Regions from separate parts of the Homo sapiens genome. Here region 1 is linked to region 2. The links come from fine-mapping of genetic effects on gene expression. A gene starts in region 2. The other region holds a variant in brackets. All regions are shown on one strand. Distances are from middle to middle.

Region 1 (2,891 bases), 170 kb before region 2:
TCCGAGCCGTGGAAGGGGCGCGGGGAGCAGCTCCGCCCCGCCGATGGTGGCTCCGCCCGTGCCCCCGGTCGGTCTCAGGGCTCGGCCCCTCCCGGCCCAGCTGCCAATCATGCACGACCCTGCCCGGAGCAGCCTCCCGCAGGACTCCGGACCCAGGGTCAAGGCCAGACTCACCCGAGGCAAAGGCCGAACGCTCCCGGCACAACCCGACCTAGGAGCTGGGGCGGGGCGGGGCGGGGCGGGGCTCCAGGGACAGACTGATGTGGAGGCCTGAGCCTCGCTTCAGCGTCTACAGCGGTCCCCGCTGGACTCTCGGCTGAGGACCCCTCCCAGGTGGAGGCCGTCGCACCCCTTCCCCGCCAGCCTGGTTTCAGGGTGGGGTTCCTACTTAGGGCCAGCCTCCCCTGCAGTCTGGGCTCTGGGTCCCAGCAGGAAAAGTCACCCTGGCTGGTGGCAGTGATGGGGTCACCAGCCCAGGATCCTGGGGGTGCCCCATGAAGCCCCAGCTCCTCCTGTCACTTGCTCCAGCCGAGTTAGTCACAGCCCCCACTGGTCCACACCTCCTGACACACCCAGGCCACCTGGTACCCAGGGCCTCTGTATCTAGCCCTGGCCCTCAGGCACCCCCTGAGCTCACCTGGCCATGCCCAAGGGGCCTGCCCCAGCCCCCTCTCCGCCTCTGCACCAAGTGCAGCCCCTGTATATGGTGCGTCCCTAGACTGGGGCCCCAGGCTGCCCTCCCATCCTACACACAGTTGTGAGGCCCTCCTCAGCCTCCTCTCTGGCCACGGCCCACTGGCGCATCTGGAGGATGGTCCTCCCCAGCCCTCAGACAGAAGGTGGGATCCAGTTGGCTACGGCGCCCTGTCCCCACACGCACCAGGCCTGCAGAACCACCTCTCTCCTCAACCACCCCTTTCGGGGTCCCAGACCCCATCCTGTCCAACCTGGGCACAGCTGCAGCCCCCTCTTGCTACACCGTGGTCCTTCGGGTCAGAAAGCTGGGCAGCGCAATGAACCTACCGATGTCTCCGTGCTTCCTGAGGACCTCCTGTGGGAGGGGTGGGCACCGCCAGGCGCTCGGGGCACACGAGGCCGATGGCTACAGCAGGAACCACCAACTCATCAGGACAGGACATGCGGTCAGACAGCAGGCGGCCACGGAGGGACTCTCGTGGGATTCTGGGGCTCAGTCACTTGGAGTCTCTCCTGAAAGGAGGCCTCCCGGCCCGCCGGTGCCCAGCCCCACCTGCAGGCTCTCCTCTGAGTGGCCCCCACGCATCTCCCCCTTTCCAGCTCAACCCCGCAGCAGCCGGCTGCTCAGAGACCAGGTCCTGCCTGGATGCAGCTGGCTCAAGACCAGCCCCCGCCCACAGCCCCCTTCTCACCCCCGGGGTGGGCGTTGGGGGGTGGACGGGTGAGGCCCCAGCCAGTGAGCAGTAAGCAAGGCCTGTAATCTCCCCGTCAGCCTGTCAGCGCCTCAGCGGTCACCCCAGCCCCGCCTCGCCCATCACCGCTGAACCCCACAATTAGCTTGGGGCACCGCGCCAAGCCTGTGTGCCAGACACCACTTGCACACATGACCACACATGTGCAGACACACATGGCTGGGTGCTGCCGGAAAAGCCCTGCCAACAGGGTCTCACCCCAACACCCAGAACTCGTCCCCAGTACAAAGAGCCTGGGAGAGAAGCCTCAGGCCGGGGCACTTGGGCTAAGAGGGGCAGTGGGGCTCTCAGAACCCAGCGCTGCCTGGAGCCCCGAGGGAGGGGCCATGTGTGGCATGGGGAAGTGGGGTGGGGGCAGGGCC[G/A]TCTCAGCAGGGGAGAGGGGCTGCGTCTGCCCAGGATGAGCTGGGGGCTGGTGAGGCACAGGGTGTTGGGCAGGACCTGGGTCCAGGCCAAGGGTGAGGCAGCCCAGGGTGTGGGCTGGGCCCCACAGGGGCAAACACTCAGGGCTTTGGGAGGCCAGAGGGACAGGGATTTCCCAGTGAGGAAATGCCCATCTCAGAGTGGGGGCAGGACAGTGAGTGGGAGGTGATGCCCGTGGCTGGAGCTGTGTGGGGAGGTGGGTGCCCCTGGAGGCCAGGTCCAGCCCCTTGCTCCACGCGGAGGCTTGCTCTGCTCATGGTGGAGCTGAGGACTTCAAACCCCACAGGGCCTGGTCGAGAGCCACTGGGCCCCAGGTCTAGATGTGGAACTGGGGGACCCTCCAGCGAGCTTTGCTGGGCCTGGGCGGCCTGCCTGGGGCGCCCCACCTTCACGCCCTCCTCCCTAACATCCTTTTCTCCTGAAGTCCCTCAGGGTGGTCACCAGATCAGGCTCGGTGCCAACATAGGAGTGGGGAGGCCAAGCCCCTCAGCTCCCCTGGCCAATCTCTGAGGCTGAGAGGGAGTGGGGGGGGCCATGCTGGAGCACCTCCCTCCCACCACCTGCCCCTTGCCCCTGTCAACTGCTGGCTCCACTTAAAATAGCTTCTCCCCCTCGCTGGTGGGAGGGAGGCCCTGGTGTCAAGCCGGTAAGGCTGGAGCAAGGCTGGGCACAGGGCCTGGGCTCAGCAGTGTTCTGTGCCCTCCATCTCCTCCAAAGCAGGCCCCAGCTCTGAAAACACACCTGACAGGGCTGGGATCCACAGAGTCCTCACCTCCTGCTGGTCCTCAAACCCCACTCTCCATGGCTGGGTCCCTGAAATACTTGGATTACCCTCAAGCCCCCCGCCATCCCCCCAAGCTGTGGCTCCCATGCCACCCTACCACGTCTGAGTCACACAGGCCCAGGCCTCCCTTGCTTCCCCCAGGAGAGACCCCCCCACACTCCTGCTTCTGGCCTGTCCTCAGAGCCCCAGAACTCACCTAGGTTCAAAGCCAGACCCCAGCTGAGGACAGAGCATGGACC
Region 2 (2,891 bases):
ATCCCCACACACTGCCAGTCTGCAGCTGGGATCTGACAGCCTGAGTGCCAGTCCCAGCCTCTCTGAGCCGGCTCAGGCCAGGCAGTCAGCTTATCCGCGCCTAACTTCTCTACAGATGGGGGCAACACCAGGGCAACCCCGGTGGGCTGCTGGGAGGAAGAGGTGAGATCATGTACACAAAGGGCTGTGCGGGGCCTGGCACACCAAGCACGCTCGCCAACGCTGCTGTCTCCAGGCTGTTGCTGATGTCATCGTCAGGCTCCGTTTTCTCCTACCTCCTGGGCTGAAGAGCTCTCAGACACGGGCGCTGACCCCACACACAGACCTCCTGGGCATGGGCACCGACCGCCACGCTGATACCCCACCCAGGGCTTGGCGTGCAGGGCCTGGACCGTCAGGCGAGTCGCCAGGAATGCTCTTCTCTCTACTCTCGACGCTTCCTCCTCAAATCCTCCCAGTTTCAAATCAAACACCGCTTCTCCATGCACCAAACCCGAACTCCACCCCCTCTTTGCACCCCGCCAAGACCGCCGGGGGCTTCAGACGGAGCACCAAGGTCAGAGGCGGGCTGGCGAGCCGCGGGTCCGCGCCCCTGGAGCCACTAGAGCCACAGCCGCCCGCAGCTGGCCAAGGAGAGAGCCCGTCCCACCCCAAGGAGGCCGGGCAGGCCGGGCCCAGCCTTCTCTCCCTGCCGCCACCAGGCCCGCGCGGCCACGCCGCCCCCAGCGGACGCCCATTCTCCCCACGGGCTGTCCGGTCGGCCCTGGCCTTCAGTCCCCGCCCGGCCCCCGGCCCCGGCCCTCAGTCCTCGGCTCCCCCGACCCCGGCCCTCAGCGCCCAGCCCCCGGTCCTCGGCCCTCAGCGCCCGGCCCTCAGTCCTCGGCCTCCCGACCCAGCCCCCAGCCCTCGGCCCCCAGCCCCCGGCCCTCGACCCTCAGACCCAGCCCCTGGCCCTCAGCACTCGACCCTCGGCCCCCGGCCCTCAGCGCTTGGCCTCGGCACTCACCGCGCGGGTGCGGCCCGAACGCCACCAGCACGAAGTAGTCCGCGAGCCGCGCCATGGCGAGGGACGCGGGGCGGCCCGAGGGGCGCGGGCGGGCTCCGCGGCTCGGGGACTCGAGGACGGCGCGCTCATGGCCCGGCCCCGGCCCTGGACCGCGCACCCCGGACACCCCTGGTTCGCTCCGCGGCGGCGGCGGCGGCGGCGGCGGCGGCCCAGGTTCCCGCCGCCATCTTCCCAGCCAGCCGGCCCGCCCGGGCGCGCCGTGCGCCTGCGCGCTGTCGTCAAGCCCTGAGCGGGCGGGGCCTGCAACCGCGCATCTCCATTGGTCCAGAGGGTGGGAGGGCGGCTCCCGAGAGCAGCGCCCCGCCCATCGCTGACCACTCTGGGGCCCGAGCACCGCCCCTCGGGCCGGGCACCTGGACTACGGCTCCGGCGGGTCTGACGCCCTGACCCGGGTCGGCTGTGGTGTCGGCGGGAGGCATGGGCCAGGACCACAGCTGCCCTCGCCGTTGGGACTCCCCGCACAGGAGCCCGAACCCCACCCCTGGGCCGTCCCAATCTGGGGATCGGGTCCCCAGACTCCTCGTCCCCCGCCCCTCTCTGTCCAGCGGGAGAAAGGCGGGAGAAGCCTAGGCGCTGCCTACCGGGCCCCCCAAACTAGAAGTCAGAGGAGGCGCAGGGCCATCACCTCAGGGGCTGCCAGCCTGGCGATGGGGAACAGAGAGAGAATTCAGGCCCTGCCCTTGGGGTCCCAGGCTGAAGAGCCCCCATCTAGGCCAAGTGAGACATTTAACACAGCTTAAAAACGGCACGCTCATGTCCCCCTGTAAAGAGCAAATGTTCTAAGCGTGTGAGGCACATGAGGCCACGGAGCAGGGGGCTCTGGGAAAGCTGCATCCCCCAGGATCCCTGACAGTGCCCACCCCTCTCAAGGGCAGGGCTGGCCAGGGCCACCCCTGAAGTGGCTCAGGGATGAGCATGAGCCCAGAGCAGAACATGCTGGGAGAGAAGGTGCAGGAGCCAGCCTGGTGCAGCAGGGAAACCCCTCTGAGCACAGCAGGCCAAGGTCTGTTTTTTGTTATGTTTTGTTTTGTTTTTGAGGCAGAGTCTCAATCCGTCACCCAGGCTGAAGTGCAGTGACACCATCTTGGCTCACTGGAACGTCCGTCTCCTGGGTTCAAGCAATTCTCCCGCCTCAGCTTCCCGCGTAGCTGGGATTACAGGTGTGCACCACCATGCCCGGCTAATTTTTGTATTTTAGTAGAGAGGGGGTTTCACCATGTTGGCCAGGCTGGTCTTGAACTCCTGACCTCAGGCCATCCACCCACCATGGCGTCCCAAAGTGCTGGGATTACAGGCATGAGCCACCGCCCCCAGCCCGAAGGTCTGTTTTTTGTTTTTTGTTTGTTTTTGTTTGTTTGTTTTGAGACAGAGTCTCGCTCTGTCGCCCAGGCTGGAGTACAGTGGCGTGATCTTGGCTCACTGCAAACTCCGCCTCCCAGGTTCACATCATTCTCCTGCCTCAGCCTCCCGAGTAGCTGGGACTACAAGCACCTGCCACCACGCCCAGCTAATTTTTTGTATTTTTAGTAGCGACAGGGTTTCACTGTGTTAGCCAGGATGGTCTCGATCTCCTGACCTCGTGATCCGCCCATCTCGGCCTCCCAAAGTGCTGGCATTACAGGTGTGAGCCACCGCGCCTGGCCCTGAAGGTCTGTTTTTAAATGAGTTTGGCTGCTGCAAGAACTGGCCAAATGACTGGCATCCAGTCTCCATCCATGGGCAGGAGCCAGCCCAAGAGAATGAATGGAATCAAACTGAGAGGCCCCACCAGGGTCCCCTCCCTGCCCTCAGGCACAGGCCACGCTACGCCTCTCCTCTCCCACTG

The links. PIP is the estimated chance that this variant, and not a neighbour inherited with it, causes the effect.
Region 1: its variant is the best candidate, but not a certain one, in a credible set for the expression of SBF1 in whole blood (TOPMed, PIP 0.77).

The regions. Positions count from the first base shown.
Region 1 is chr22:50,300,324-50,303,214 of GRCh38, forward strand. The region is part of intron 1 of PLXNB2 (plexin B2); the gene reads right to left. Among named protein-coding and RNA genes, the nearest start is that of PLXNB2, 5.9 kb to the right of the region's middle. RefSeq lists enhancers at 117-673, 674-1,230 and a silencer at 1,368-1,417. The variant G/A (reference allele first, on the strand shown) is at 1,811.
Region 2 is chr22:50,473,780-50,476,670 of GRCh38, forward strand. SBF1 (SET binding factor 1) reads right to left here and starts at 1,256. Exons shown (of 41, transcript NM_002972.4): 1 at 1,007-1,256. The coding sequence starts at 1,061. RefSeq lists enhancers at 1-598, 1,509-2,418 and silencers at 618-747, 1,168-1,627, 1,208-1,412.